Regions from separate parts of the Homo sapiens genome. Here all the other regions are reported to be linked to region 2. The links are microRNA targets in miRTarBase. Many come from high-throughput screens and were not tested one by one. Region 2 holds a microRNA gene; each other region holds the end of a gene's coding sequence.

Region 1 (5,396 bases), not on the chromosome of region 2:
TTTTAATGTATGGATATTAATGGACTATTATCTTCTCCAAACTGCAGCTAAGGAAATGACTGGATTCCCACATCAAGTATTTATCAGGTATCTTTTATGTGCACCCTTTTTAGGCACTAGGAGTACATTTAAGTAACAAGTTAGGACAAATAGCCCTCAAGTAACATAGACTTTTGCCGTAAGTTTGGGGTATTCTTAAAACATGTATGAAAACTTGCTGGCAGCCTCTGATTATCCAGACAACCCTTTTTTTTTTATTTTAATTTTTTCCATCAAAAGCCTACTATAACCTACACACTTGGAACAAAGTAGGTCCCCAGTATGAGTGTTAAATAAATGAGCCAGATTGTTGAAACATTAATATTATAGGAGGAATGTCCAAACTTAACTTATTACCCCTTTGTTAACTCAGAAATATTCTTCTGTGTATCTCTTGCTTTTCTCACTGCTTGAAGCTCGGGTAATTCTCGTTATGTCAAGTGTTTCCCTGGACAGGATACACACATATCCCCTACAATGCCCTTCCGTCTTTCCCAGGTCCAATTACTCAAGATGGTCTTTGACTCCTTAAACCAACTGAACCTATTTATAACTTTCCTTTCAGATGGCCACAAAAGTGAAGTCTTATCCATTTCCCTTACTATTCTAACTGAAGTAGGATTTTCTTAAACATTGGCATTTATGATTAATTTGTTCTACCATTCATTATAATTAATTAGTTAAAAAGCACATTTGCCTTTAAAAGGACACAACTTTTAATCTGCAATACACACTATTTCAACTACCTCATAAGCTGTGATAAAAAGGATATTTTTTTCTAATAAATTCTGAGTTTTAATTCACTAACTCTCAGACTGTAGGTTACTTAATGTCATTAATACAAATGCACATATAGAATATTTTACTCAAACCAAATGCTATGAAGTTATAAAGAAGTCAACCATCATTTTTTTTTCCTTTTTAAAGATTCTCCATCTTTTAAAGTAAAAATTAGGCCAGGACATTGGCTCATGCCTGTAATGCCAGCACTTTGGGAGCTCAAGTTGGGGCAGATTACTTGAGGTCAGGAGGTTGAGAACAGCCTGGCCAACATGGTGAAACCTCATCTCCACTAAAAATACACAAATTAGGTGGCAGGTGCCTGTAAACCTAGCTACTTGGGAGGCTGAGGCAGGAGAATCGCTTGAACCCAGGAGGCTGAGGTGGCAGTGAGCTGCGATCGTGTCACTGCACTCCAGCCTGGGTGACAGGGCAAGACTTCATCTTGAAAAAAAAAAAAAAAGTAAAAAATTATTTAAAGTAACCACTATGTTACAGTATAATAGAAATAAAGAGAATGTGTATATATAATATTTTGCTTAAAGGAAGAGAATCGCCACTGAATTTCAAATATGAATAAATTACTATATAAAATATAATTGGTAATCAAAACAATGTTTTACATGTGATTTCCAAGTTCATGGAAAAAACATTTAAAAATATGTACACATCTAAATTCCTGATTAGAATAACTAAGTGAAAGACTGAGCTTGAATGCAGAAATGCAGAGTATGAAGATTTAAAAAAACAATAGCTTACAATATATTGATGTTTGTACAAAATTATTTATTATTCATTTATTGATCTAAAAACAAAAGTTCATTTGGAAGAATATTTCTTTATAATATCGTACATACATAAAATGTTGAGCTACTCAGGAACCTGAGGCTGGAGGATCGTTTGAGCCCAGGACTTGGAGTCCAGACTGGGCATACTAGTGAAAACCCATCTCTTAAAAAAGAAAAGTTAACAAGTTGACTCTTTGGTTTATCATTTTATCCTTTTGTTTTAAATATTCTAGAACCCAGGATCTACCTGAATATCATGATAAAGTTATTTTAAAAAAAACAGCAACGTACATGTCACATATATAGTCAATGTAAAGCAATTCTACTTTGCATCCCTTAGCCACAGGCATAAGGCAGAACACAGATATTTCTGTGTTCTGTGAATATCTGTGGAATGATACTTGAATATGTGGATCTTGAGTAAAGCTGAATTCATCCAGAATTAAACTTTTTGCATTATTTAGGTGACACTAGACATCATCTTGATTAAACAAGATATTTGCTTCCACAAGTGTAGACTGACAACATATACCCATACCTGAACACACCATGTCAGAATTATGGCTAATCCCAAACTTGTAATAGAGGGATATCTGTGTATTCGGGATACAGGGTCACTTGCAGTATTCTCTAGCCATCTGCCAAGAACTACTTTGAAATTATACCCATTTTTCTTGTGTTTCTGCTTAAAAACTAATGTACAGTACCATGTAGACAGTAAAAGCTGCATTACCAAACTTTAATATCAATGTACATCAAAGTGATATTATCCGCCCCCCAATATTAATATGGGGAAAAAAAGACAGAAAGTATATGGCTTAAAACTATTTCATCCACAAACTGTGATGGTGTCTGTTTAAAACTTAAACAGTAGCTGTACATTTTTTGAAGTATTATATTCTTGCTCAGTCTTATCCCTGGAGAGGTTTTGGCCACAGAGACTTTGGAAAGTTGTTATGTACATATTCTCAAATATAGATATTTTTGAAGAAAAAAGATACAAGAAAAACAATTTTTAAAAAACGCAGAGAAAAATAAATCTGCTGTGCAAAGCCTAAGTCACCTGTCAGGGGATGATGAAATAAAGCATTCTGTATTCCTCAATTCCACTGAAGAGGAAGAGCTCACAAACTATTTAAAAGGATGTTTCTATAAGCTATCTACATGTCCTGAAATTAAGGAGATTTCTGTACAAAAAGGCAACAGGCTTTTGGTTGTAATTAAACATGATTAAACTTCTACTCTTTATATAATTTCAGTTTTAAAGTTACATTGCACTAAATTTCAGGGCTTTCCATTTCAGAACTGCCTAATGGCTCATTATCCTAATTCCCTATCCAATACTAACAAAGAATGGGTAATAACAAAGTCAGTCTAGTTTGGTTAACTGTGGGTTCTGGGCTTTGTTAGGTTTTCTTTTCCTGTCATATTTTCTCCTGCTATGTTTTCTTTTTCATGGTTTCTAAACACTATGGAAAATTATTTTAATGATATAGATATTTTATACCATTATTTAAATTATTTTAATGAGACAATATTAAAATTTGTCTGAATCTTGCATTTTTAAAACAACAGTATACTGCTCCACACAGCAACTTAGAATATATTAAGTAATATATTTAAAGTGATGTACAAACACTTCACACTTCTCACAGGATGCACTGCTTCTTGAACTCTGTTCTTTGTGAATGAAGCAAAGTCAAGTTAAAGTCTCTGGAACAGATATGGAGCTTATACTTCATTACTGTAAGAAAGACAAAGGGTATCTTATAATCTGAATATCATCCTCAAATCATGGAAGAACTAGCCCAGTAAAACTTCTCATTTTCCCAATGGTATTCTTACAAAAACACTATGCAGTCATATCATATTTGGCACAACTTAAAGAAGAGCAAGACCTGTAATCCCAGCACTCTGGGAGGCCGAGGCGGGAGGATCACGAGGTCAGGAGTTTGAGACTAGACTGGCCAACATGGTGAAATCCCATCTCTTCTGAAAATACAAAAATTAGCCGGGTGTGGTGGTGCGCACCTGTAATCCCAGCTACTCAGGAGGCTGAGGCAGGAGAATCGTTTGAACTTGGGAGGCAGAGGTTGCAGTGAGCCAAGATTGCGCCACTGCACTCTAGCCTGGGTGACAGAGCGAGACTCCATCTCAAAAGAAAAAAAAAAAGAGCAAGAATTTTCGCAAGCAAGACCCCTTAGCATTGTCATGCCAATCTAACAAAAATTTAGGCAGAAATTTACATTTCTAAAAGCTTTTATACAATAGAAAAAGGAGGGGGAATCATTCAGATTTTCTAAATTCCTACTGGTTTGTCCTAAATGTGAAGTAAGGAATGACTATAAAAAATCAGCAGCCTATGGGTAAGAGGGGGACAGCTCCCTGGGTCCAGTGTAGAAAGAAGCACATCCCAGACCGTTTTCAAAGGCTGAGGAAAATAAATTCCTACGAATGTCATTATACTACATGAGGCTGATACTTTGCAAACACTTCAGGCAGAAAAAAAAATAAAAAATAAAAAATGTAAAAGGTACTGCTGTTGCCCAAACAGCTGTACAATGATCCACAGAAAAAATAATATTAATAAAATATAACAAGTTATCCCGTAGAACTTCAAGTTAATCTTAAAAAAGGGCTTTGTCCCATTTGCTTATATTTTTGAAGATATGAAAACACTATAAACACATGTTATAAAGGGTTACTGAGGGTAGTATGACCTTTTTAAAAGGAAATGGTTAAAATCCATACACCATACACCATACACCATACATCGTCCACAAAAATTTCTAAGTGAGACTTAAAATCTTCAGTCTAAAGAAAATGATTTAAATACATCTATTATTTTTACCATTACCACTTACAAATAATGTGTTTACAGAGAAATTCTATCTACAGCAGACCCTAACTTTATCACACAGAAAAATAACTTTATACTAGGACACTGGTGAACATATACATCATACCCATAATTCTGTCCTTAGGAAAATCTATTGGCATGTTACAAAGACTGTCCACAATTTTCTTTGGACAAATATTGATAGCCTCATTCATTTTGCATTTTAATAGCTATTTATTTTTGTGTATAAAGTTTCCAAACTTTTGCATAAATCCTCGAAACTTGTTCTCATTGGGTTGATATGAGCGATAAACACCAGTGTTGTAATTAAGCAATGGACTAGACCTGCCATAACTGTTGCCCATAGTCGCAGATTTTATTTCTGGGCGATTTATACTGGTATTTGGCATGTTGCTTGTTGGCTGAATAGAGCTCTCAATCTTACAAAACGGCTCAAAACGACTGTAAACACGCCGATCAGTTGAATGAGATCGTAGAAGCTCACTGGACGTTGGCCTTGGAGAAGAAGTAGGTCTTCTTTCAGGGGTAACAACTGCATTAATCTCCCTTGAATCTCGGTATTGGATCTGTTCAGTGTTAAATCTTGGGGCAGAGGCATCTCCTGCCCTTTCCAAGAACTTGCTTTCAACTGGACCTGGAGAAGGTGTTCTTTTATTTTCATCTGGTGGAGCATTTATCTCTTGAGATGGGCTAACTGTTACATCTTCCTTACTCTTGTGGATGCTGCCTTGAGAATTCGATGAGGAAGAATGCTTTCTTCTAGGAGATGAATCAACTTTTGTGTCTGATTTCTTTGGTTTTTGATTTTCTTCACCCTCAGAAACTAATGTGTCAGAGCTACTACACAATCTATAAAAGGCAGGTGCTTTATTTTTGGATAGATTTTCTTTCTTATCTGGGGTAAGGCTAAGTAATGACCTTAACTTCTG
Region 2 (5,396 bases):
TTGTTGAAGCCCTAAGCCAGAGCCAAGGGCAAGAGTATAGAGAATCTGGAGATGCGGAGAGGGTTCTGATTGCCTACAAGGAGTTTGGACTTTATTGTGGAGGCAGCGGGGAGCCAAGGCAGGTTTTAGAGTAGGAGAGGGTCCAAGCCTGTGGGTCACCCTTCCGACTTCCCTTTCCGAATGCCAAACACCTTCATGTCCCCCGTGGGCCCCCTTTGTCCCTCCCACCCCAAACTAGCCCTCAATCCCTGACCCTGGCTTCCGCCCCCAGCCCTCTGACGTCCATCATCTCTGCGGTGGTTGGCATTCTGCTGGTCGTGGTCTTGGGGGTGGTCTTTGGGATCCTCATCAAGCGACGGCAGCAGAAGATCCGGAAGTACACGATGCGGAGACTGCTGCAGGAAACGGAGGTGAGGCGGGGTGAAGTCCTCCCAGCCCGCGTGGGGTCTGCACCGGCCCCCGGCACTGACCCACCACCCCCTCACCCCAGCTGGTGGAGCCGCTGACACCTAGCGGAGCGATGCCCAACCAGGCGCAGATGCGGATCCTGAAAGAGACGGAGCTGAGGAAGGTGAAGGTGCTTGGATCTGGCGCTTTTGGCACAGTCTACAAGGTCAGGGCCAGGTCCTGGGGTGGGCGGCCCCAGAGGATGGGGGCGGTGCCTGGAGGGGTGTGGTCGGCAGTTCTGATGGGAGGGGCAAGAGCTGGAGGCAGTGTTTGGGGGAGGGCAGTTACAGCGGAGAAGGGAGCGGGGCCAAGCCCTAGGGTGGTGAAGGATGTTTGGAGGACAAGTAATGATCTCCTGGAAGGCAGGTAGGATCCAGCCCACGCTCTTCTCACTCATATCCTCCTCTTTCTGCCCAGGGCATCTGGATCCCTGATGGGGAGAATGTGAAAATTCCAGTGGCCATCAAAGTGTTGAGGGAAAACACATCCCCCAAAGCCAACAAAGAAATCTTAGACGTAAGCCCCTCCACCCTCTCCTGCTAGGAGGACAGGAAGGACCCCATGGCTGCAGGTCTGGGCTCTGGTCTCTCTTCATTGGGGTTTGGGGAGATATGACTCCCGCAAACCTAGACTATTTTTTTGGAGACGGAGTCTTGCTCTGTCACCCAGGCTGGAGTGCAGTGGCGTTATCTCGGCTCACTGCAACCTCCACCTCCTGGACTCAAGCGATTTTCATGCCTCAGGCTCCTGAGTAGCTGGGATTACAAGCGCCCGCTAATTTTTTTTTTTTTTTTGAGACAGAGTCTCGCTCTGTCACCCAGGCTAGAGTGAAATGGTGCGGTCTCAGCTCAGCCTCCCAGGTTAAAGCGATTCTTCTCCCTCAGTCTCCTGAGTAGCTGGGATTACAGGCGCGAGCCACCACGCCCGGCTAATTTTTGTATTTTTAGTAGAGATGGGATTTCACCATGTTGGCCAGGTTGGTGTCAAACTCCTGACCTCATGATCCGCCCGCCTCGGCCTCCCAAAGTGCTGGGATTACAGGTGTGAGCCACCGTGCCCGGCCTAATCTTTGTATTTTTAGTAGAGACAGGGTTTCACCATGTTGTCCAGGCTGGTACTTTGAGCCTTCACAGGCTGTGGGCCATGGCTGTGGTTTGTGATGGTTGGGAGGCTGTGTGGTGTTTGGGGGTGTGTGGTCTCCCATACCCTCTCAGCGTACCCTTGTCCCCAGGAAGCATACGTGATGGCTGGTGTGGGCTCCCCATATGTCTCCCGCCTTCTGGGCATCTGCCTGACATCCACGGTGCAGCTGGTGACACAGCTTATGCCCTATGGCTGCCTCTTAGACCATGTCCGGGAAAACCGCGGACGCCTGGGCTCCCAGGACCTGCTGAACTGGTGTATGCAGATTGCCAAGGTATGCACCTGGGCTCTTTGCAGGTCTCTCCGGAGCAAACCCCTATGTCCACAAGGGGCTAGGATGGGGACTCTTGCTGGGCATGTGGCCAGGCCCAGGCCCTCCCAGAAGGTCTACATGGGTGCTTCCCATTCCAGGGGATGAGCTACCTGGAGGATGTGCGGCTCGTACACAGGGACTTGGCCGCTCGGAACGTGCTGGTCAAGAGTCCCAACCATGTCAAAATTACAGACTTCGGGCTGGCTCGGCTGCTGGACATTGACGAGACAGAGTACCATGCAGATGGGGGCAAGGTTAGGTGAAGGACCAAGGAGCAGAGGAGGCTGGGTGGAGTGGTGTCTAGCCCATGGGAGAACTCTGAGTGGCCACCTCCCCACAACACACAGTTGGAGGACTTCCTCTTCTGCCCTCCCAGGTGCCCATCAAGTGGATGGCGCTGGAGTCCATTCTCCGCCGGCGGTTCACCCACCAGAGTGATGTGTGGAGTTATGGTGTGTGATGGGGGGTGTTGGGAGGGGTGGGTGAGGAGCCATGGCTGGAGGGAGGATGAGAGCTGGGATGGGGAGAATTACGGGGCCACCTCAGCATGTGAAGGGAGGGAAGGGGCTGCCTGTGCCCCACCTTGCAGGGTCTGTGCACTTCCCAGGATTAGGGAAAGACCGGGTAGGGTCTGTCTCCTGGCATCACATCTCCCCCTGCTACCTGCCATGATGCTAGACTCCTGAGCAGAACCTCTGGCTCAGTACACTAAAGCTCCCTCTGGCCCTCCCACTCCTGACCCTGTCTCTGCCTTAGGTGTGACTGTGTGGGAGCTGATGACTTTTGGGGCCAAACCTTACGATGGGATCCCAGCCCGGGAGATCCCTGACCTGCTGGAAAAGGGGGAGCGGCTGCCCCAGCCCCCCATCTGCACCATTGATGTCTACATGATCATGGTCAAATGTGCGTGGCTGAGCTGTGCTGGCTGCCTGGAGGAGGGTGGGAGGTCCTGGGTGGAGGAGCCCACAAGGGGCATGAAAGGGGACCAGGATGTATGTAGACCCAGGAGCCCTAGTATGTTAGGAGCCTCAAAACCTTCTTGTATCCCTTTTACAGTCAAAGTCCAAAGCCACTCTTGAGGAACACTCTTGTACAAAATTAAGCTGGGCACAGTGGCTCATGCCTGTAATCCCAGTACTTTTGGAGGCTGAGGTGGGAGGATCCCTTGAAGCCAGGAGTTCAAGACCAGCCTGGGCAACATAGTGAGATCCTATCTCTACAAAAAATAAAAAAATTATCTGGGTGTGGTGGTGTGTGCCAGTAGTCCCAGCTACTCAGGAGAGGCTGAGGCAGGAAGATCACTTGAGCCTAGTTTAAGGTTGCAGTAAGCTATGATTGCACCACTGAAATCCAGCCTGGGTGACAGAGCGAAACCTCATCTCAAAAAAATAAAAAAGCAAACAAAAAGAAAAAAAAAATTAAAAGGGAAACTAGAAGAGATGCCAAAGGTTCTGGCTGAAGACCCCAGAGTCTGGTGCTACTTCTCTACCACCTGAGGGCTTTGGGCTGTCCCTTGGGACTGTCTAGACCAGACTGGAGGGGGAGTGGGAGGGGAGAGGCAGCAAGCACACAGGGCCTGGGACTAGCATGCTGACCTCCCTCCTGCCCCAGGTTGGATGATTGACTCTGAATGTCGGCCAAGATTCCGGGAGTTGGTGTCTGAATTCTCCCGCATGGCCAGGGACCCCCAGCGCTTTGTGGTCATCCAGGTACTGGGCCTCTGTGCCCCATCCCTGCCTGTGGCTAAGAGCACCCTCCTGCAGAGGGTGGGAAGGAGAGATGAGTCCAGTATGCCAGGCCCCTCACGGAAGGCTGCATGCTGGGCTGGGGAGGGGCCACCATCCTGCCTCTCCTTCCTCCACAGAATGAGGACTTGGGCCCAGCCAGTCCCTTGGACAGCACCTTCTACCGCTCACTGCTGGAGGACGATGACATGGGGGACCTGGTGGATGCTGAGGAGTATCTGGTACCCCAGCAGGGCTTCTTCTGTCCAGACCCTGCCCCGGGCGCTGGGGGCATGGTCCACCACAGGCACCGCAGCTCATCTACCAGGGTCAGTGCCCTCGGTCACACTGTGTGGCTGTCTGCTTACCTCCCCCAACCCCGGTGGACTAGGGTCCCTTTCTCTGATGTTCCCTCAACTGTCACCTCTCAAGGAAACCCCATTATCCCTACAAAAAATTCTTACTGCCTTCCAACCCCTGTGACCCCATTCTCTCCACGGTGACTGTGTCATACCCCAAAGGTGACCTCTGTTTTTCTCCTGTGACCCTGTCACCTTCCATGGAGTCCCCATCCCAGATCCGTGAGTGACCCCCATCATGACTTTCTTTCTTGTCCCCAGAGTGGCGGTGGGGACCTGACACTAGGGCTGGAGCCCTCTGAAGAGGAGGCCCCCAGGTCTCCACTGGCACCCTCCGAAGGGGCTGGCTCCGATGTATTTGATGGTGACCTGGGAATGGGGGCAGCCAAGGGGCTGCAAAGCCTCCCCACACATGACCCCAGCCCTCTACAGCGGTACAGTGAGGACCCCACAGTACCCCTGCCCTCTGAGACTGATGGCTACGTTGCCCCCCTGACCTGCAGCCCCCAGCCTGGTATGGAGTCCAGTCTAAGCAGAGAGACTGATGGGCAGGGGAGGTGGGACCTTCAGCCCAGGGTCCACTGTGGGGGCAGAGGGAGTGGCAGAGACACCGGGGTTCCTTCCCCTAATGGGTCACCTTCTCTTGACCTTTCAGAATATGTGAACCAGCCAGATGTTCGGCCCCAGCCCCCTTCGCCCCGAGAGGGCCCTCTGCCTGCTGCCCGACCTGCTGGTGCCACTCTGGAAAGGCCCAAGACTCTCTCCCCAGGGAAGAATGGGGTCGTCAAAGACGTTTTTGCCTTTGGGGGTGCCGTGGAGAACCCCGAGTACTTGACACCCCAGGGAGGAGCTGCCCCTCAGCCCCACCCTCCTCCTGCCTTCAGCCCAGCCTTCGACAACCTCTATTACTGGGACCAGGACCCACCAGAGCGGGGGGCTCCACCCAGCACCTTCAAAGGGACACCTACGGCAGAGAACCCAGAGTACCTGGGTCTGGACGTGCCAGTGTGAACCAGAAGGCCAAGTCCGCAGAAGCCCTGATGTGTCCTCAGGGAGCAGGGAAGGCCTGACTTCTGCTGGCATCAAGAGGTGGGAGGGCCCTCCGACCACTTCCAGGGGAACCTGCCATGCCAGGAACCTGTCCTAAGGAACCTTCCTTCCTGCTTGAGTTCCCAGATGGCTGGAAGGGGTCCAGCCTCGTTGGAAGAGGAACAGCACTGGGGAGTCTTTGTGGATTCTGAGGCCCTGCCCAATGAGACTCTAGGGTCCAGTGGATGCCACAGCCCAGCTTGGCCCTTTCCTTCCAGATCCTGGGTACTGAAAGCCTTAGGGAAGCTGGCCTGAGAGGGGAAGCGGCCCTAAGGGAGTGTCTAAGAACAAAAGCGACCCATTCAGAGACTGTCCCTGAAA
Region 3 (5,368 bases), not on the chromosome of region 2:
GGCAATGGTGGTGGAGCCCCACAGCCAAACCCCTGGAGCATTCCGAGAGCATGGACGTCTTGTGGACCGTGTGTCCCTCTGCCCCAGCCACACTGACCACTGGGACGACTGAGTCTGCTCAGCTTACGCTCCTGAAAAGCACGAAGGTGCTGGGGCAACTTACGGCAGAAGGCAGGCAGCTGAAACCTGGGGCACCGGGCCCTTCGCTGCTTCTAGCAGTAGCGTCCCCCCGCCAGGGGAGGGGGGTCCATCAGAGCCTCCTGCTGCTTGGAGAACCTGGGTGCTCCACCCATCACATGTGCCGCCCGACAGGTGTCACGAGTGTCCCCCAGCCCCCTCTCCACAGGGCAGTTTTTGGAAATGAGCCATTTGCTTGGCCAATCCTCAGGAACACGCGGTCCAAACTTCTGATAACCAGGCATGAGGACTCATCCTTAGCAGATTTGTAGCCCTTTTCAAAATGGCCAGAGCGGCTGAGATGGTGAAAAATTGCTCAGTGTAAAACAAAGGTCACCTGCTGCCCATCTTCAGAGAATCTTCATTCAAATCTTAGAGGTTAACATTTATTTTCACAGATGTGTACACAGCCCTCTGAAAAATCTGAGGATGACTGTGTTAATGCAGTTTGGCACTGACAGTTGTTAAATATTATAAAATAAGTGCGTTCTGCTGGCATCTTTTCTCAGCTGCCATGTCCTTGCTGCCTGCTGGGATGAATGGCACTGGAGGAGGAGCTGGGTGAAGGCACGGGGAGGGGTGAGGGCCTGCAAGGTGTGGGCGACAGGAAAGCCCGGCTGCACACCATCGCCCTCTGCAGAGCCACCGTCGTGCTCCTAAACATCTGGCCACGGCAGCCTGGCTCCCAAAGCTCACCAAGCGAAGGACCGACTGTGAAGTGAACTTCGTACCCAGAGCTGGCAAATGTGGCTTTCGCCTCACAGAAATTTTACATCAGCCTGTAGAAGACGGTGAGGAACCATCTTTTGAGGGGTCCGAGGGAGACCCAGCTCCCGTGCTGCCTGGCAAGCAGCAGGAGCCACCGCCACGTTCTCGGCCACGGCAGGGGCCCCGTCTTTTGTGTCCACTTTACACACAGGCAAGTCCAGATGTGGCCATCAAAGAAAACTGGGACCATCAGGACTTCCTGCAGATGGATCGAACTCTCCTCTGGGGTCCAGCTGCGCCCCTCGTCCACATCTGTGCTGGCTGGAGGGTCAGGGCTCCACTCTGCCCGACAAGCAGTCTGGTGCAGGGGACGCAAATGTCACACCCAGCAGGGCCCGGCACTTGGAGACCTGAACTCTGTCGCCCAGCTCAGTGGGAAGCTCACCAGAACTCGTAACTGTCTTTGCTTTGTTTTCCTTCACGGAAATGACAAGGACCTGTAAAACTTGTAAATCCCCATTTCTGCTGGGGAGAAATTTTCCCCAAAGAGCAGGATGCCTTGTGAGGAGGCCTCCAGGCGTTTCTCTTGTCCTGTTCTAACCTCCTGACCTTGTGTTCAGATGTGCCTGGCAAACCGGGGCAGGTCCTTGGTGTTCAAGGCCAATGCCCCAGATGGACAGCTCCATGCTCAGACACGTGGACAGTGGGGTGCCCGGAGGCCACCAGGGTGGCATGTGGCACTTCTCCAAGTGCCGGGCCCTGCTGGGTCTGACATTTGCGTCCCCTGCACCAGACTGCTTGTCGGGCAGAGTGGAGCCCTGACCCTCCAGCCAGCACAGATGTGAGCTCTGGGGATGGCGTCTGGAAGGGGTGGTGGTGACCGGGAGCACCTGCAGGCACCACTCTTCCTGTACCGGCTTTCCCACTTGCCGCCGGAGGCTGGGAAACTCACGGTACACACAGGCACCTCCCCACGACCAAGGCATCTGGGCCGCTGGCTCGCTCTCCTCCCAGACAGCAGTCTCGGGAGGGTCTGGCTTCAGGACAGCCTGCACCAGCAAAATGCCGGATGTCCATCAGGGCTGGGGACCAGGGCCAGCTGTCCCCCACTTCCCACAACCCAAGCCTCGCCCGGTGAGAAGGCTGCAGGTGTTGGTGACACCCGACCCTTCACCGTCCTTGGACACTAGGGCAGGGCAGACGTCGCCACGTGGCCAGCGACTCAGATCCACACCGTCATCCCAGGTGAGCCTGGTGAGCAGCAGCATGTGCTATGTTGCCAACACGTGCTTTGCATGTGGCTCTCCGTGCTTTGCATATGGCTCTCCGGGAGGCATGCCTGTTCACCGTTCTGTCTCCAGCAGCTCACAATACATACACCCTGAACCAATGACCATAGAACCGAATTCTCATTTCAATTAGCAATAGAATCCAACCAAGGTATTAGGTTCTGTTGGGGAATAAGCTTGCTAGGTTTTTCATTCTGTAAGGACATCCTACATGACAGGATTAATTTTTTAAAAGAACCAAGGGCCTGGCACAGTGGCTCACACCTGTAATCCCAGCACTTTGGGAGGCTGAGGCAGGAGGATTGCTTGAGCCCAGGAGTTCAAGACCAGCTTGGGCAACACAGTGAGATCCTGTCTCTACAAAATTGTTTTAAAAAAATAGCTGGGTTTGGTGGCATGTGCCTATGGTCCTAGCTACTTGGGAGGCTGAGGCTGGAGGACTGCTTGAGCCCAGGATGTCGAGGCTGCAGTGAGCTATGACTGCACCACTGCACTCGAGCCTGGGCAACTGACCCTATCTCTAAAAGTGAATAAAGCACCAAGACCCTTGGTCAAGGCCATACTCACACCCAAACGCGTGGCCCACGAGAAGGCCATCACTTTCCACACATTAAGTGGTGGCCATCTTTATTAGAGATGTTTAACATTCAATAGATATCCAAGGTGACAAAAGTTAGGTCATGGTTTATGTGTTAGCATTTGCAGAAACAGTAACAAAAAGTAGTAAAAAGTTAAAATAACCTCGACACACAGCCGCTTTTGCCATCAGCCTTCCTACCGTTCTTCCTCCACCTCTGGTTTGGTGTCTGTCCTCAAGGACAGCAGAAGAGGGGCTGTCTGTGCAGCCAACCAGCCCCTGAAATACCAGGAGCCTGGTCCTAGAAGAGGACTTGGAAACAAACCCGTGGGCAAATTATCTTAACCAGTAACAAGTGGAATGATCAGTAAGAACTCGTTAAACCTCCCTAAATGCAGTCACTTTCAATGTGTCTGAGTCTCACCTCTGGATGTTCTCAGCTTGCAACCTTTCTTGGAGAAGGAGCCGGTTCACAACCACAGTCTGGAAAAGCAGATGACCCTCCACCAGAGGCACCTGGGCTCCACATTCCAGCCATCGGGGAATTTCAAAGTCTCCTCTTTGAATAACGCCACAATCCTGAATCCTCAGACCCAGCTACCAGTCACGGAGCGGTTCTGTTCAGACACTTTTGAGTGGCTGGTACGGAGCTCATAGGCCCCGAGGATGACACAGGACTCGGCACCAAACACCATCGCTTCCAGCTTCCAAAGCTACAAAATCAAGCTTTCAAAACGAGTGTTCACTTCCAGAAGTGCTTCCGTCACAGGTGTGATGTGGACGCCAAGACACACGCAGGTGGCACCTGTCACTCAGAAGTGCCGGCCTGAGTAACCTGGACTCCATGCAACCGCGTGTCAGCGTGTGCATGAGTGTGTGCGTGCGTGCACACAACCGACGGTCTTTCAAAGTGCTCCACTGTGATCTCTCGTGTTGACAATTCTACATGAAAAAAAATCAGTCACGGCCAGGCGCAGTGGCTCACGCCTGTAATCCCAGCACTTTGGGAGGTTGAGGCAGGCAGACTACTTGAGGTCGGGAGTTTGAGACCAGCCTGACCAACATGGTGAAAACCCGTGTCTACTAAAAATACAAAATCAGCCAGGTGTGGTGGCGCGTGCCTGTAATCCCAGCTACTTGGGAGGCTGAGGCAGGAGAATCGCTTGAACCCGGGAGGCGGAGGTTGCGGTGAGCCGAGATCATGCCATTGCACTCCAGCCTGGGCAACAAGAGTGAAACTCCGTCTCAAAAAAAAAAAAAAAAGGAAAGAAAAGAAAAAAAAATCAGTCACTTGATAAAGGTGAATGCTGAGATGGACACATACCTATTTTTGGTTAAATAACTTTAATTACACCACTGTAAGTAGATTCTGCCTCTGACCCTCCCACAGGACACAACCGGATGTGATTCTTGTCACTTCTATTTTAAACATGCATACTGGGAAAAACAGAAACACAAGAGTGCTATGGGTACACGCGACGTGTGAGAAGAAAGGAACCCCCTGGAGACACGGACGCGGTGTGCGGTGACAGCCAGGCCTCACTGACAACAGGGCAGCGAATCGCAGCCGGGACGCCTCTGAGGCGGAAGCAGTCTTGGGATTTCCTGTCACGCTCTCGATGCTTCTGCCCACTCTGGTTTGTCACGGGGATGCTTCATTTTGGACAGTATAAAACCGGTGATTAATGCATATCTTGCTCTTCAGCAAAATACTATTCAAGTAGTTTTAACTTAAATATTTTAAAAGTAATCTTTACATTATTGAAGATTGTTAAAAAATACAGAATCTGACAACTTTTCACTCAATCTGATGCTCTGAAACTCTTCACTTCTGTTTTATCATAATTTAGAAGGCAATCCCTGGCCTCTATAAAACTCTCTGCAGGATTAGCTTCAAGATCCATCTTTCCCCCACTGGTTCGAGTTTAAAAGGCTTTCAGAACCTTTTGCCACTGCATTATAAAGAGAACATGAACCCCTTCCCATTACTTCCTTTAGCTACACATGCTATGACTGAGAGTGTGCTGGAAGCTAAACAAGCCCCAGCTGATTTCTGCCACATAAAAGGGCGCCGTGAAGAATTTCCCTGTTGAAACCTTAATGAAGACGATGATCCCAAGTGAAGCTTTATGAAGAGACGGCACAGCAGAGTGAAATGTTTGGCAATCAACAGTTAATTAGAATTACATCCTTGATCAGGGATGATGCTATCTCCGCGAACTCAGTCGTTAGAAAAGTTGGTTTCTGCTGTGACGAGGCTCACAGTGGCCACTCGAGGAAGTCCAGCCTCGTCAGCCTCCGGTCCCGGGCCCCAGGCCCCTCCAGGCCCTCAGTAGATATCTGGGCAGTCGGAGAAATTCCGCTCAAAGTAATCCCCTGCATACAACCAGTCGGGGGTCCCAGTGTAGGGGTTATTGCCTGGGTAGAACCACCTGCCGGATACAAGGGAGGGGGGTCAGAAGATGCTCAGCCCAAAAGGAAAACGCAGCCCTGTTCTGGGTGCAGGAGTGTGTTCCCCCAACTCAGCACCATCACGGTAACGTGGGTTTTAAAATGCAGCCCAGCGTAACAACTTCAACGGAGAATTATTGATCACGTGGTCATGTGAATGCTGGAA
Region 4 (5,000 bases), not on the chromosome of region 2:
AGATTACTTGAGGTCAGGAGTTTGAGACCAGCCTGGCCAACATGGTGAAACCCCGTCGCTACTAAAAATACAAAAATTAGGTGGGCATGGTGGCATGCACCTATAATCCCAGCTACTTGGGAGGCTGAGGCTAGGGAATTGCTTGAACCCTGGAGGTGGAGGTTGCAGTGAGCTGAGATCGCGCCACTGCAATCCAGCCTGGGCGGCAGAGTGAGACTCTGCCTCAAAAAAAAAAAAAAGAGCAAAGTCAAGTCCATTGTCTTATACGGTGTTCTCATTCTTAATTTAGTTATTTAGTTATTTCCTTGTGATGTCATCTAATTTGTTCCTCTATCCTATTTATTTCCTGTAAACCGAAAGTTAGATCTAAAGGCTTGATTAGACCCAGGCTACATACTCTTGGCAAGAATCTATTATGAGTAATACTGTACACTTCACATGGACCAGTTGCTCCAATTTTCCTTGGATGGATGGGATTGATGGATCGATGGGTGATTGCTAGACATCTTTATTATAGAAGAATTAGTCCCCTTGTGATTTGCAAGTCAGCTGTGGCATGCTGGGCTGGCACCCTGCCACATGCACCTAGGCAGGATTTTGACAGACCATTCCAGGCAGAGGTGAAAGCCTCACCAAGGTGGAAGGCACAGTACGTATTCAGGGGTGAGGAATGGCTGGATGCCATTGGCTCCAATGGAGGCTGCGGCTAGGCCCAACTGCAGAGAATTGTGAAGCGGGAGTGAAGAATGAGGATGCTGTTCACAGGCCAGAGAGAGCTGGGAAGGTCTTGGACTGAGGGATAACTAGAGTAATGATGAGAAAAAAAAATGGGTAGCACTGGACGGCAAAAATTTCCTCTGGGGTGGGGTGGGGGTGGTGAGAATGGGGGTGTCCTTGTCCCCACCTTCCACAAGCCCTCAGGTGGCCAGGACCCTGTGCCCCAGAGAGCAGGGAGCCTGTGCTGTTCTTGAGGGATATGAGGGACTCCCCAGCCCTGGAAGTAGCACAGAAACAGCTCTGGAGAGGAGGATGGGGAGATCGGGGCACTCCTGCAGGACCAGGATGGGAGAAGGGATGGGCATGACCAGGGGGCCTCCCCTGCCGCCACCTCCAGGGCCCCTGGGACCCAGTCCCACCCAGCTCTCCCAGCTTATCTTTTCTGGCCAGTAAGGAGGATTGCCCACGTGTGCTTAGCATTTCCTCTGCCTGTGACCACGCTGGCTGTACCAGAAGGAAGGGGTCTCGGTCCCTGAAATGACCACATGGAAGGTTGCCTAAGACTGAGAATGCTTGATTAGACTTCGTGTGAGAAGAAATAGCTTCTGCTGAGTTGAGCCACTGAGATTTGGAGGTGTTTGTTGCAGGAGGTAGCCTTTCCTGACTAATACTCCCTCCCTTTCTCCAGTGTCTGCCCGTGCAGGGGGAAGGTGAAGGCTGAGTGGCTGAGTGATTATGCTGCTGAAAGCTCGAGATGTGGGGACTGCTTTAATGGTTTCATCAAATCCTCCTGACAGCTGGTCCCAAGGTGGGCTGGGAACTCTGGGACAAATGTCTGGGCTTCTCCATCAGCACCTGTGCAGCCACCTCCCAGGCCCTTGTGTCCAGCCCTGACTCCCACCACTCACAGGGTGACCTTGGGCAAGTCACCACCTATTTCAATGGGAAGGCTTCCCCAGTGGGATAGAGGGGATCATGGTGCCCCCTGCCCCATCTCACAGGGACAGCAAATGCCAGGAAACCAAAGCAGACACTATTTTAAAGGATTTATTTTCCAGCAGTCCTGAGGGGCAAGGACAGGACAGGAGGGAGAAGGAGATCCCAGGACGCTTGAGGGCCCCGTTCATGGGCAGTAGGCAGATTCGTCCTTCTAGTGCCTGTGGTAGGCAGGTTGACCCTGGGTTCGGGAGGGACACAGGCCCTGGATGACACTGAGCTGGATGCCTAGGCAGTGTCACTCCCCACACTTTCAACCTGAGCCCCACAGCAAGCCTATAAGGTGAACATTCTCACTGTGATTTGTCAGGCTGGGTTCAGGGAGTGAAATGGCCTCCTCCAATTCCACAGGTTCAAATACCCTGCAGAGCGGCACCAGCCTCCCTCAGAAAGGACCAGACACTTGTAACATTTATGTCCTTTACCTGGGACACTGCTGTCCCATACTTGCTGTATGAAAAGAATATTTCTCAAGAGGAAGAGGAAGCCAGGCGCAGTGACTCACGCCTGTAATCCCAGCACTTTGGGAGGCTGAGCCAGGAGGATCGCTTGAGCCCAGGAGTTTGAGACCAGCCTGGGTAACATGGCAAAACCCCGTCTCTACAAAAATCAGCCAGAAAGGCATAGATAGACCCAAATCCCAGTCTTTAGCCTGGCCCAACCACCTGAGAATGGTCTCTACCCAGGATTCCTTCACTCAATTACACCCTACTCTTTGCCTCCTGCCACAGACAGAGAGAGAGAGCGCTACGCTACCACAGCCAGCTTCCTCCCAGGGCCAGGAAAGCTCCACCTTGTCCCCCTCTCACAGTTCCTAAAATTCTTCCATTCATCTATTTGGCCTCTTAAGTATTTACTCTGTTTTCAAATACATATATAACTCCAGCTTATAATACCAAGTCAAAGGTAGTCTTTCACACCATAGCATGAATTTGATTGTCAGCTATTTAAGGAAGGAGGCAGGGAAAGTGGAATGGGGGGTACTCTGAAGAGGCCAGGCCTGGGTATTGGAGGTTGGAGGACCACCCAAAAAAAGCCTGAGGGGAGAAGGAAATGTAAGCAGACACGACACATAGGTAAAACGAAGAAAGGTACAGGAGTCTCCTATTAGGAAAAAAAGGGGGAGGCTGGGTGTGATAGCTCACGCCTGTAATCTCAGCACTTTGGGAGCACAAGGAAGGTGGATCACTTGAGGTCAGGAGTTCAAGACCAGCCTGGCCAATATGGTGAAACCTGTCTCTACTAAAAATACAAAAATTAGCCAGCCGTAGTGGCACACACCTGTAATCCCAGCTACTTGGGAGGCTGGGGTGGGAGAATCGCTTGAACCCAGGAGGTCGAGGTTGTAGTGAGCCGAGATCACGCCACTGCACTCCAGCCTGGGCGACAGAGTGAGACCCTGCCATAAAAAAAAAAAAAAGTTGGGGGGGGGGTGGGGAGAGGGAAGAGGCCAGGCACTGTGGCTCACGCCTGTAATCCCAGCACTTTGGGAGGCTGAGGTGGGCGGATTACCTGAGGACAGGAGTTCGAGACCAGCCTGGCCAACATGGTGAAGCCTCGTCTCTACTAAAAATACAAAAATTAGCTGGGCGTGGTAGCAGGAACCTGTAATCCCAGCTACTCAGGAGGCTGAGGCAAGAGAATCACTTGAACCCAGGAGGCAGAGGCTTCAATAAGCCAAGACCACACCATTGCACTCCAGCGTGGGTGACAAGAGCGAAACTCCATCTCAAAAAAAAAAAAAAAAAGGGAGTGGGGGAAGAAAGGTGAATCTGGGCAAATTTGGGGCTTCACATTGACCCAGCTGGCCCATTTCTAGTGACCTTGAGTCTCTGTATTGATATGTAACTGCCTTTTGGCAGGGAGAGGGGAGGGACATTAGTTTTATTGATTTTGTCTGCAGCCACTTTCTGGGCTCTGATTCTGAGCCAGGGCCTGTCTGCAGTGCTCTATGCTAGAGGCTTGGAGACTAGAGTAACTTAGCTAGAAACCTTGGTCCAACTAGTGGAGAGGTGGGGGAGAAAACCCCCAAATCCCAAGAATCTGCGGAGACTGTGACTAGGGTTATTAAGAGGGGACAGAGGGCCAGGGGACATCTAATACATGAAATGGAATTACCAGCTGCTTGGGCGAGCAATGCCTTGGAGGGCTGGTGGGGCTACACATGTGCAGGTGGTGGGACTTTCTGGGTGTCAGCAACATCCCAGGCAAAGACCCAGAAGTGGGATGTGTAGTATGGGTTTGGAGAACAGGGAGCTAGAACCCAACATTCATGAAGGGAAGTGGGCAGGCTGGAGACAGAGATGGAACCCAGATCCAGAGGGCCACATGCCAGGCTTGGGAGACTGACCTCAGCTTAGGGCAGTGGGGAGTCATGGAAGGGTTTAAGCAGGGGAATCGCTGATGGGAACAGGACCCTCTGACTGCAGGGAGGGAGGCAGAGGATGGGTTAGAGGGGTCAGGGGGGAGATGGCAGTGACAGCACGGAGGTGACCAAGGGTGACAGCCACAGGGATGGAGATCAGGGAATGCAGAGAGTTGGCACAGGCTTCTGGCGGGGAGCAGCTATAATGGCAGGGAGGTAGGGCTCCTGAGCCTTCCTGGAGGAGCCAAGGCCACGGTCATCAGAGTAGGCTCTTCATTGGCTCAGCTTATTGAGAATCATCTTCACCCAGGGCACTCTGGGATCGGCACAGATCTCCTTATCCCTGAAGGTTAGCAACCTGGAAGAAGGAGACCCCAGAGACAATGCAGCAACATTAGCACGCAGCAAGGATGCCACACCCTCGGGAGCTTAGCATTTATGAGCCACCTACTTTATGCAGGGCTCAGCATTTATGAGTCACCTACTACATATGACATTATCTGCTAAATAGAGTGGTTCAAAATTTACAAGCCACCTGTGGTGTGAAAAGAATATTTCTCAGGAGGAAGAGGAGGCCAGGAGTTCACGCCTGTAATCCCAGCACTTTGGGAGGCCGAGGCAGGAGGATTGTTTGAGCCTAGGGGTTTAAGGCCATCCTGGGCAACATGGCAAAACCCTGTCTCTACAAAAACGTACAAGTCAGCCAGGCATGGTGACATCTGCCTGTGATCTCAGCTACTTGGGAGGCTGAGGTGGGAGGATTGCTTGGACTCAGGAGGTCAAGGCTGCAGTGAGCCCAGATCTCTGCTCCACTGTACTCCAGCCTAGGCAACAGAATGAGACCCCGTGTCAAGAAAAAAAAAAAGAGGAAGAGGCAGCAAGGACTTCCAGGACCCTCAGCTCTTGAATCCCAGCCTTGAGT
Region 5 (5,323 bases), not on the chromosome of region 2:
GAGGGCAAGGCTGCAGTGAGCCATGATTGCTCCACTGTACTCCAGCCTGGGTGACAGTGAGACCCTGTCTCAAAAATAAAAAAGAGGTCGGGCGCAGTGGCTCACACCTGTAATCCCAGCACTTTGGAAGGCCGAGGCTGGCAGATCACCTGAGGTCAAGAGTTCGAGACCAGCCTCTCCAACATGATGAAACCCCGTCACTACTAAAAATACAAAAAAATTTAGCCAGGCACAGTGGCATACCCCTGTAGTCCCAACTATTCAGAAGGCTGAGGCAGGATAATCACTTGAACCCAGGAGGCGGAGGTTGCAGTGAGCCAAGATCGTGCCTCTGCACTCTAACCTGGGCAGCAGAGTGAGACTCTGTCTCAAAAAAAATAAAATATTTCCCGGGGAGCCCATGGTAAAAATACAGTCTCTCTTAAAGTAAGTTTAATCTGGTGTTAATCTTTAAGGCTTCAACTGAAAAATATAAATGGTGTGTTATGATCAAAAATAGAGTGTGTATGTTTCTACTGAAACTTCAGAAACATAAACTTAGTATGACATCTGCACTTCAGATAAAGTTATTTTAAATCACGTTTGAGAATATATATTAATACAGTAATTCTGTTCATTTTAAATGCTAGGCAATATAGCGTTGGATTTGAGGTTGTAACAGTTTCTACTCTAGGAGATCCTGGTCCCCATGGCTTTCTGAGGAAATCTAGTGGTGACTATAGGTAATGTTGGCATTTTTATTGTATCTATTTTATACTTTACTTTTTGTGGCATCATCTTCTATAAACCTTATTCTCATTTTCTCTAAATATAGGTGTGGGTTTTGCTACCTGGAATTAGAAAATATACCTTCTGGGATCTTCAATATCATTCCTAGTACCTTTTTGCCTAAACAAGAAGGACCTTTTTTCTTGGACTTTAATAGTATTATCCCCATCAAGATCACACAACTTCAGTGATGGAGAAATCTCAAGTTACTGGCTTTTATACTTACCAAACATCAGTTCTTCAAATAAGGACGCAAATCTTCAGGACAGTAAGCAGAACAATCAGAATGGAATTAAATCTCTAAAAACGTGTTACAGTGGAATCTGGTGCTTGTCAGGGTGTTTGGTAAGAACTGTATATAGTCAGAATTACCTAAATCACCTAGAGGTACCGTTTACATGGTTTTGTGTATATAGAGTTGGCTTGCATTTTAGGGGCCATTTTGTATAAAAAGTGCATATGATTAAAATTAGACTCAGTCATCACTGTGAGATGCCTTTGCTAAGAGGATAAAGGAACTGAGACCAGATGAGAAAAAGAAAGGATATAGATTCCTTGAGTGGAATAGTGGGCTAGATTAATATACCGAAATATTTCCATTGTTTCCCTTTTTTGCAGAGCATGTGGAAGTTAAACCTGCTTGATTCTACTATACATCTTGGGCAACTAGTTACCAAATGAATTGTGCCACCATAACTGATTTTAATTTTGCATTATTTATGATTTTAAAATATTTGTTGCCCAGGTGTTATGAAAGAATAAAGCTTTTAAGTATAGACTACCTTAGCATGAAGATGCTCATGCCTAAGAATGAAAATTGTTGAGGTTATCTCCCATTCAATCATGTAGCAAGAACTTAAAGAAATTCACTACTGCAGTTTTTATTTTTAAAAAACAGTAATTGAGATATTGAAGACATTACAATTTAGTTTGTGTGGTCTTTTTTTAAATTGCTGTATCGTTCAGTCTCTTGTGGCAATAGCACTTTGAAGAAAATAGAGAATTTAATATATGGTGATTGGGATATGTAGCATTCAAAAAAAGTGAATTGCCAAGATACTGGTGTCATGTAAATTCCCACTTTACATAAAAACCCATCAGGACAGAATGATGCTCAATATTTTAAAATTCTAAAAATAGGGTGGGATTTTTCATTGTCTCTACTTTATAATTATCAAAACTTATTTTGTATTGCTACTACCTTAAATTGAAATAAAATGTTTATACTTACGGATATTGCATAGTTTAAGTTAGATTTATTGAAAGATTTCATCTGTCGTGTTTCATGTAAATGAGAACAGATTATTTGCATGAAAATATATACTTCAACAAAAATCTGTTCTTTAACAGAGTAGTGGTAGATTATTACACTAATGAGATTTCACTTTGGTAAATACTTCATGCTTTCAGTTTTAGCCTATTAATTTTAGGTGGACAAATTTAACAAGTTTTCTGTTACTTTTTAAAAAGAAAAAATCCAGAACATAAGAACTATATTATGAACACATGATTTGAACCTGTTGTGGTAAAGATCTTGTACAGGATGCAAACTAAAAACCTAATCCCTGCCATCAAATTTATTAGAAGAGACCTATATATGAACAACTTAAAGGCACTGATTTCTATAATAGAGCTCTAAAAACATGCCACCAGTGTATGAATAAGGGAAAGATTAATTTTGGCTGGACCAATATAAAAAATTGTATTTGAAGAATTGATACTTTAACTTGGACCTTGAAGGTAAAGCTTCAAAAGACAGGTTACTGACCATTGAGTGTTTACTATGTACCCAATGTGTATATTTTTCTTTTTAATCTTCCCAATAGCTGAATAAAGTATAGATACTATTATTTGTACTTCTTACAATTGAGGAAATAAGCCTAAGAGATTAAAAGATTTTGCCCAGGGTTCACAAGCCTTCTTCCCTGAGCCCTGATTGAGCTGCTGTGTGTGTCTAATGGCACCCACAGTCACGGCCGTCTAGTCGAGGGAGGGACAAGATCTAGACCCATTGTAGAGGGAGGAAAAACAATCCAGGCCTTTTGGAGGTTCTAAATAACAGACAGACCAGTTGAATTGTTAGAGAGGATGACTCAAGTTTCTAATTCAGCACATGGACAGATGCTCATAGCTTCAGTGAAAGGTAAGTTTTGACACATTAAATTGCCCAGAAAATCCAGATCTGGAATCAACGTGGTATAGTAAGTGAGATCACCCAAAAAGTCAAGAGTCACGTGAACTAAAGATGGTTAAGAACTGATTTGGGGGAAGTTTTTTAGAAAGTATTTCTAATTTAGAAAAAAATACATAGACTAACAGGAGATACAAGAAAACGAGGGTTGGGGGAGGATTAAGAAGCCCAGTGAACAGAATTCCCAGAAGAGTATAATTAAATGTCAGATGTGGTGGAGATAAAGAGGCCACAGTGACAGCAGTAGGGGCAGACTACGTAAAACTAGAAATTTGACTAGGTGATAGTGTGAGAAGGGAGCCCTGGTCAAAAGGTGGTCTGCATCCTTTTCTGGTGTAGGAGACAAGCAAGTGGTAGGCTGATGGGAAAGGGGGATTGAGGCAGGAAACAAGAGAAATTCTTAATGCCCATAAGGAATACTCTAGTGCTACTGACTGACTGCCTAGGCTTTGTCTTTTGTAAAGACAAGGGAAAGAAAGCCCCAGTGTTAGAAAACTCCTTCCCACTTTCATTCTCTGCGAGAAGTACCTAGAAATTTCTAGTTATTAGACTGTATAACTTGACTCTGCTGTAAAAACTTTATCCTAGCTTGGGCTATTTTCCAGATGGTGTTTCTTCTAGGAGGAAAAAGAATTGCCTCAATTGCAGGGAAGTTTTTGCTAATGGTAAGTCAAGCAAGTCTCAGTGTCTTTACTACAGGTAAAAGGGTGTAAGGAGATTTTATGAGAACTGAATGAACCCTGAAGGTCACTAGTCAAATTCAGGTATGCTGTTAAGTGTTCTTGCTTGAGACCCAAATTACAAGACTGGCCAATTTTTGTATTTTTGGTAAAGACTGGGTTTCACTATGTTGCCCAGGCTGGTCTCGAACTCCTGGGCTCAAGTGATCCACCAGCCTTGGCCTCCCAAAGTGCTGGGATTACAGGCATGAGCCCTTGGGCCCAGCCGGCTGTTTAATGTTCTTAAATAGCACAAGGGACTTCTATGAACTTTCCTAGATGAAATATTTATTAACTACTAGGTAAAACACTTGTTTGATACTGCAAAGGGTTATTTCTGAAACTTAAACCTCATGATTGGCCAACCAAGAACTTTTTCTCCACAGCATGCTTTAATAATGAAATGCGGATTAAGAGTCCAATATTATAAAACATTTCCACAAAAGAAAGAATCCATCTGATTCTCAACTCTGAATGCACATTTGAATTCCCTCGGGGAGCTTTTAAAAGTCTAATGCCCCAGTGTACCCCCCCCAGTTAATTAATTAAATAATTCTCTGGGGATGAGAACTGACTGACAGCAACACTTAAGCTTCGAGACTGCAGTGTGCAGCCGAGGCCCACTCCTCCAGCGTCACCACCTCGTCTTTATCTGCCACTGTGTCTCCTCATTGCCCACAGCTTTAGCAACAGCAAAAGTAGAATTCAAACCTTGGTAAACAAGGCTTAAATTATTACTGTTCATGACCTTAATTAATTGAAAATGATTACTGGTGACCACAGCACTCCATGCTCTTCCTTATGGAAAAAGGGTTGCCTAGAAGATTTAGGCAATACTGGGAGTTCTTATTTGAAGTCACAGAAAGGAGAAACTTTTCTCAAGCCGTTTTTATTACACTTAGTGTATTAAGACAAGTACAAAATAACCTTGTAATTAAGATACTGTATCAGTCAAAAAAGAAGTCACTATTGTATGAAGAGATTTACAAATGACTAAAATATACAGGCTGTGACAGAATTAACAGTTTGAAAGAGGGTTGCTTTTTTCTTTTAGAAATGCTAAATTTTCTTAACAAGACAAAAATACAGTGCTCTAAATATGCATTACCATGAAAACGTTAAAGAAAAGCAGTCTTAACACTTAACTACTATTAACAGCCTTTGCCAACACATGCCTGCCTACTCCCTTTCCTAACTTTAAAGAACTGTTTCCTCTAAGGAATACTAGTGCAGCATAACCCTTAAATAATTTCATTTATTTTTAAAGTTACAACCTACAGAGAAATTAACATCTTGTCAATCTAATAACAGTGGCAACCATTCTTCACATGCACTTCTCTTAGAATAAATCCCCTTGGCTGGCAGGATAAGGCTTATGCTGTAGAACCTTCTCCCCCACAGCCACAAATCCCCTTCTATAAGTCCCTCCTACCCTCATCCCCCCGCATCCCCACTGGCATTCACCTTTCCCACCCCAAAAAGTGCAGCTCATGGTAGCCTTCTAGAAAATGGTTTTAATGGGTATCCCAGCATACACGCTTTTTTAAAAGCCCCCTCTGAACACCAGAGGTGGTGAAAATGAATTGTGTTCTTGGATTTTTTTTTTTTTAAGCCTCCACTGGGTCAAAAATATGTGCTCTTAATA
Region 6 (5,279 bases), not on the chromosome of region 2:
GGTCAGGTCAGGTGCAGATCCTGTGGCAGCCACGTCTTTCCATGCTGGGCCTGCTGGGCCCCCCAGGCTTCCTGATGGGGTCCCCAGTTAGGAGCTGCCTGCTCAGGGCTGGGAGGGGAGGAGTGCTGAGCTGCAGATAGAGGGCAGGGCCCACAGTGGGCAGGGCCTGCCCTGGTGTGCAGGTGCCTCTGCAGGAGAGAAGGGCCTGGGGACTGAGAGCAAGGGTCAGGGCCTCTCTTTGGGGAGGCCTCTCACTGTAACAGGACTGGTCAGGCCTGAGAGGAGGGCACTGGGTTCCCTCTTGGGTCTTGTCCTTTTGTCTTGGGGCCCTTTCACTCCCTGCACGGTGAGTGGTGGGCACAGGACAGGGGCTGATGTTGATGGAGTGATGGGAGAGAACTGACAGGGGCTGGGAAAAGCAAGGAGGGAGGAAGAAAAAAGTGGGGGCCTCATCTTCTCTCAGAGAAAGGGCGAATCTGATTTTGGGGCAACTGAAGAGAGAAAAGTCCTTAGGGAATAAACACAACACTGCACCCAGTGGAGCATTTACCCGTTTCCCTCTTCTCCAGAGCTTGTGAGCCTGCAGGTCCTGGATCAACACCCAGTTGGGACAGGAGACCACAGGGATGCAGCACAGCTGGGATTTCAGCCTCTGATGTCAGCTACTGGGTCCACTGGTTCCACTGAGGGCACCTAGACTCTACAGCCAGGCGGCCAGGATTCAACTCCCTGCCTGGATCTCACCAGCACTTTCCCTCTGTTTCCTGACCTATGAAACAGAGAAAATAACATCACTTATTTATTGTTGTTGGATGCTGCAAAGTGTTAGTAGGTATGAGGTGTTTGCTGCTCTGCCACGTAGAGAGCCAGCAAAGGGATCATGACCAACTCAACATTCCATTGGAGGCTATATGATCAAACAGCAAATTGTTTATCATGAATGCAGGATGTGGGCAAACTCACGACTGCTCCTGCCAACAGAAGGTTTGCTGAGGGCATTCACTCCATGGTGCTCATTGGAGTTATCTACTGGGTCATCTAGAGCCTATTGTTTGAGGAATGCAGTCTTACAAGCCTACTCTGGACCCAGCAGCTGACTCCTTCTTCCACCCCTCTTCTTGCTATCTCCTATACCAATAAATACGAAGGGCTGTGGAAGATCAGAGCCCTTGTTCACGAGAAGCAAGAAGCCCCCTGACCCCTTGTTCCAAATATACTCTTTTGTCTTTCTCTTTATTCCCACGTTCGCCCTTTGTTCAGTCCAATACAGGGTTGTGGGGCCCTTAACAGTGCCATATTAATTGGTATCATTATTTCTGTTGTTTTTGTTTTTGTTTTTGTTTTTGTTTTTGAGACAGAGTCTCACTCTGTCACCCAGGCTGCAGTTCACTGGTGTGATCTCAGCTCACTGCAACCTCTGCCTCCCAGGTTCAAGCACTTCTCGTACCTCAGACTCCCGAATAGCTGGGATTACAGACAGGCACCACCACACCCAGCTAATTTTTGTATTTTTTGTAGAGACGGGGTTTCGCCAAGTTGACCAGCCCAGTTTCAAACTCCTGACCTCAGGTGATCTGCCTGCCTTGGCATCCCAAAGTGCTGGGATTACAAGAATGAGCCACCGTGCCTGGCCTATTTTATTATATTGTAATATATTTTATTATATTAGCCACCATGCCTGTCCTATTTTCTTATGTTTTAATATATTTTAATATATTACATGTGCAGTAATTAGATTATCATGGGTGAACTTTATGAGTGAGTATCTTGGTGATGACTCCTCCTGACCAGCCCAGGACCAGCTTTCTTGTCACCTTGAGGTCCCCTCGCCCCGTCACACCGTTATGCATTACTCTGTGTCTACTATTATGTGTGCATAATTTATACCGTAAATGTTTACTCTTTAAATAGACATTTCTGGTCTGTGTTTTATTTCATGCGTCTGGGAGCGGATAAAGTGTGAGGTTCAGGGAGAAGGAGAGGTCTGTCTCAATGCCTTGACCCAGCATCAAAGCAATCTCCCCTCCTTGTTCCCTTTCCCTGCTAGTTCCCAATGACTGACAGATTCACAGCAGAACAGAAAGGACTGGGAAGGGATGGAGGTGGGACATCTGGCGCCAATATTCAGGGGCTGACCCTGTGAGGGAACATCTGCCCTGAAGAGTTGGAGCCTTCATGTGATGACACAGAGATCTCTGTCACTGTATTCAGGGAAAGGATCAAGCCTCACTCCCCATGCAGGGAGGAGGTTCTGGCTGTGATCCGGCCTGTGGGAGAAGTGAGGACCCGCTCCCTCTACAGTGACAGCCAAGAACCTGCAGGTGACAGAGAAGGCTTCCCCTCAACTGTCTCCTATCAGGTTCTTCCAGGCATCAAGGAATAGACCTGGGACATTGCCTCCAGTGACATGAACACACCCAGAAGTGAGGTGGCCCTGCCAGGGGGTCCTGGTGCTGCCACTTGTTTTGGGAGCTCAGTGTCTGGAGAGGGGTGTGGAGAGTAGGCTTTCTGCAAAACAGTAATCATGACCTATAAATTATTTTATTCTTCATTAGCTTTTTGCCATAAAATAAAACAGGTACCCAAAAAGAAAAACTGTCTGAAAATGTTGCCCTTTAATAATAATAATAAATAATAATAATAAAAGATAAACACTCTTTAACCACCAGAGATATAGAAGTTTGTCAGCCAGCCCAGAAACCATCATTTGCCCCAGCTCAGTGATAAAGGCTTCCCTTCCCCACATAAAATCACAGCCTGACCTTTATGATGATTGCTTCTTTGTTCTATTTTATATTTTCATCCTCTGAAATTGTAGTTTAGTTTTACCTTGGGATGTATAATTTTTGTTCTCTTTTTTCTTTTTTTTTTTAAGACGGAGTCTCACTCTGTCACCCAGGCTGGAGTGCAGTGGCATGATCTCGGCTCACTGCAAGCTCCGCCTCACGGGTTCATGCGATTCTCCTGCCTCAGCCTCCCGAGTAGCTGGGACTACAGGCGTCTGCCACCACGCCCGGCTAATTTTTTTGTATTTTTAGTAGAGACAGGGTTTCACCATGTTAGCCAGGATGGTCTCAATCTCCTGACCTCATGATCTGCCTGCCTCGGCCTCCCAAAGTGCTGGGATTACAGGCGTGAGCCACCGCACCTGGCCTGTTCTCTTTTTTTCTCTATGCTCCTCCTTGAAATTTTATTGTCTGGCTGAGTTTTCCATAGTTTGCATTTTGCTGGCTCCACCCCAAGGCATAGTTTAATATGGACCTGTTTTATCTGTACTTTCTACAAATTGGTAGTTGGCTACAGAGATTTGCTTATAGACTGACTTGATTTTCTTCTTGAATACTTCATTTATGGCACTCCATTGTATTCTTCCATCAGGAGGAAGAACTTAGTACTGGTTATTTACTTCTACTCTACTTTTAATTGCCATTGCTTTTCAATGGCTAAATCTGTTAATTCGTTATGGGTTGCAAAAGAATTATAGTCTCAGTCTCTCATTCCTTCCCCATTCACTAGCTGAATAATTTCTAAAATAAGAGATTTACCCTTGGCTGGATGCGGTGACTTACGCCTGTAATCCCAGCACTTGGGGAGGCCGAGGCTGGTGGATCACCTGAGGTCGGGAGTTCAAGACCATCCTGACCAACATGAAGAAACTGTGTCTCTACTAAAAACACAGAACTAGCCGGGAGTGGTGGCGCATGCCTGTAATCCCAGCTACTCGGGAGGCGGAAGTAGGAGAATTGCTTGAACCGGGAAGGCGGAGGTTGCAGTGAGCCGAGATGGCGCCATTGCACTCCAGCCTGGGCATCAAGAGTGAAACTCCGTCTCAAAATAAATAAATAAATAAAGTGGAGCACTTGACGGCCATGGGAGAGAATCGGCTATGACCACACACAGCAAGATGATGAGCCCAGCAAAGATGATGAGCCCAACTACATGAAAACAACTTCTAATTTCATTCAATCAGAACCAACAGAACTCATCTACAGTGTTAAAAATCAAGACAGTGGCTACTCTAGGGTGGGGGAGGCTGGTTTATGACTCAACGGTGTTTCTTGGAGGGTGAAAATGATGTTGCTTGATGAAGGTGTTGTTTATCCGAGTTTTTACTTGGGCAAAATCCACTGCCCACCTGTGATTTGTCCACCTTTCTCCATGCATGTTGTCCTTCATTCAAGTTTACATTTCTGGTGTTTTGAAACAATTCTCTCTAAGCTAATATAGAATTTCTCCTACTCCAAGTCCTTAGAAATGCTGCATTGAAAATACCAGTGAATTTTTTTTTAATTCCAGGAAATAAATGCCCATGACTCAGATATAAAAAGGAGAATCTACAAGAGCAGTAGGCTTGGGAGCTGACACCAGAACAGCTTTGGAAAGGGCTGTCGAGCCAGGAACTAGGAATCAAAACCCAAACAAGACCACAGGAGGTAGAGGGTAGAAATTATGCCCCAGTAGTGCATGAATGAATGAATCAAGGGCAGTGACTCATGGGTTGCCTGGCCAGTCTGGAACTTGGGGAAAATAAAGTTGGAAAATTGGCGGATGGAAGAGAGAAGTGTGCACTGACCACTTTCCATGGGAAGAGCATGTGAAGATAGAGGTTGCATATGGATGCCTGCCAGAGGGTCTCCAAGGGGCTGGGGCTCCCTGTAACCAGGTGAGCGAGATGGCTTGATGGATGATGCCACTCAGCCGCACAAGGCTTGCTCATGAGTCCCTGCACAAAGTGGCCGTGGTGGCTGGGATGGACACTGCATGGACAGAGCAATTGAGTCACCACTCACCAAGGCTGACCTGGCAGCTGCCACTGCTGAGGACCCAGCCTGCCAAAAGCAGCTGTTTCTTTGAACAGAGAAAAAAAACAGACAATGTTAATTAAGAGCAAGACAGTGTTATGACAGATAAATATGCCACTGCAGCTATAGTAGAGATGTAAACAATCTTGAAATTATAAAAAAAAAATGTCGATGGAAAAGACTTACTGCAAGTAAGAAGTTAAAACAGTTGTAAAAATTCTATCTCTGCCCAACTATATACAGATTGTTTCACAGGGAAGTCCTACTAAACCTTCAAAGAAGGTTATTGGACTTATTTAAAATATTCAAGAGAATGGAGCAAAATACAGAAAGCTAGGCAACTCACTTTATCAGCTATGAATAGTGTTAATTCTAAAGCCAGTTAGGGAACAAATAATAAAGAAACAAGATAGGAAAATCACTATTAGTAATTAGATGTAAAATAGATGAGAAAAATAGTAGACTGTGTCCATCAGT

Evidence for each region. The annotated mature microRNA hsa-miR-4728-5p reads UGGGAGGGGAGAGGCAGCAAGCA and lies in region 2 at 3,449-3,471, shown strand. An mRNA with a match to its seed (bases 2 to 7 or 8) in the 3' UTR can be bound and repressed. Matches are read on the target gene's strand: a 7mer-m8 pairs with bases 2 to 8, a 7mer-A1 pairs with bases 2 to 7 and ends in A, and an 8mer does both.
Region 1: the mRNA of FAM83B is a reported target of hsa-miR-4728-5p. Seed matches in the 3' UTR shown: 7mer-A1 at 3,688-3,694 and 7mer-A1 at 3,523-3,529.
Region 3: miRTarBase lists OSBPL2 as a target of hsa-miR-4728-5p. Seed matches in the 3' UTR shown: 7mer-A1 at 3,890-3,896 and 7mer-A1 at 3,756-3,762.
Region 4: miRTarBase lists CCL22 as a target of hsa-miR-4728-5p. Seed matches in the 3' UTR shown: 7mer-m8 at 4,142-4,148, 7mer-m8 at 3,582-3,588, 7mer-A1 at 3,201-3,207, 7mer-A1 at 3,012-3,018, 7mer-A1 at 2,238-2,244 and 7mer-m8 at 1,903-1,909.
Region 5: miRTarBase lists CAPN7 as a target of hsa-miR-4728-5p. The part of its 3' UTR that is shown has no 7-base or 8-base seed match.
Region 6: the mRNA of MICB is a reported target of hsa-miR-4728-5p. Seed matches in the 3' UTR shown: 7mer-A1 at 1,421-1,427.

What each region holds. Positions count from the first base shown.
Region 1 is chr6:54,941,288-54,946,683 of GRCh38, reverse strand. It overlaps FAM83B (family with sequence similarity 83 member B), which reads right to left. Exons shown (of 5, transcript NM_001010872.3): 5 at 1,585-5,396. The coding sequence ends at 4,677. Among named protein-coding and RNA genes, the nearest start is that of FAM83B, 97 kb to the right of the region's middle.
Region 2 is chr17:39,723,048-39,728,443 of GRCh38, forward strand. It overlaps MIR4728 (microRNA 4728), which reads left to right and starts at 3,448; the gene lies at 3,448-3,514. It overlaps ERBB2 (erb-b2 receptor tyrosine kinase 2), which reads left to right. Exons shown (of 27, transcript NM_004448.4): 17 at 272-410; 18 at 491-613; 19 at 865-963; 20 at 1,679-1,864; 21 at 2,002-2,157; 22 at 2,280-2,355; 23 at 2,660-2,806; 24 at 3,515-3,612; 25 at 3,768-3,956; 26 at 4,248-4,500; 27 at 4,642-5,396. The coding sequence ends at 4,997. RefSeq lists an enhancer at 3,256-4,228.
Region 3 is chr20:62,293,600-62,298,967 of GRCh38, reverse strand. It overlaps OSBPL2 (oxysterol binding protein like 2), which reads right to left. Exons shown (of 14, transcript NM_144498.4): 14 at 2,785-5,183. The coding sequence ends at 5,081. Among named protein-coding and RNA genes, the nearest start is that of ADRM1, 6.7 kb to the left of the region's middle.
Region 4 is chr16:57,362,940-57,367,939 of GRCh38, reverse strand. CCL22 (C-C motif chemokine ligand 22) reads right to left here. Exons shown (of 3, transcript NM_002990.5): 3 at 1,751-4,436. The coding sequence ends at 4,352. Among named protein-coding and RNA genes, the nearest start is that of CCL22, 6.7 kb to the right of the region's middle.
Region 5 is chr3:15,250,302-15,255,624 of GRCh38, forward strand. It overlaps CAPN7 (calpain 7), which reads left to right. Exons shown (of 21, transcript NM_014296.3): 20 at 630-722; 21 at 815-2,615. The coding sequence ends at 959. SH3BP5 (SH3 domain binding protein 5) reads right to left here. Exons shown (of 9, transcript NM_004844.5): 9 at 4,052-5,323. SH3BP5-AS1 (SH3BP5 antisense RNA 1) reads left to right here and starts at 3,883. Exons shown (of 3, transcript NR_046084.1): 1 at 3,883-5,323.
Region 6 is chr6:31,509,213-31,514,491 of GRCh38, forward strand. MICB (MHC class I polypeptide-related sequence B) reads left to right here. Exons shown (of 6, transcript NM_005931.5): 6 at 570-1,912. The coding sequence ends at 697. Among named protein-coding and RNA genes, the nearest start is that of MICB, 14 kb to the left of the region's middle.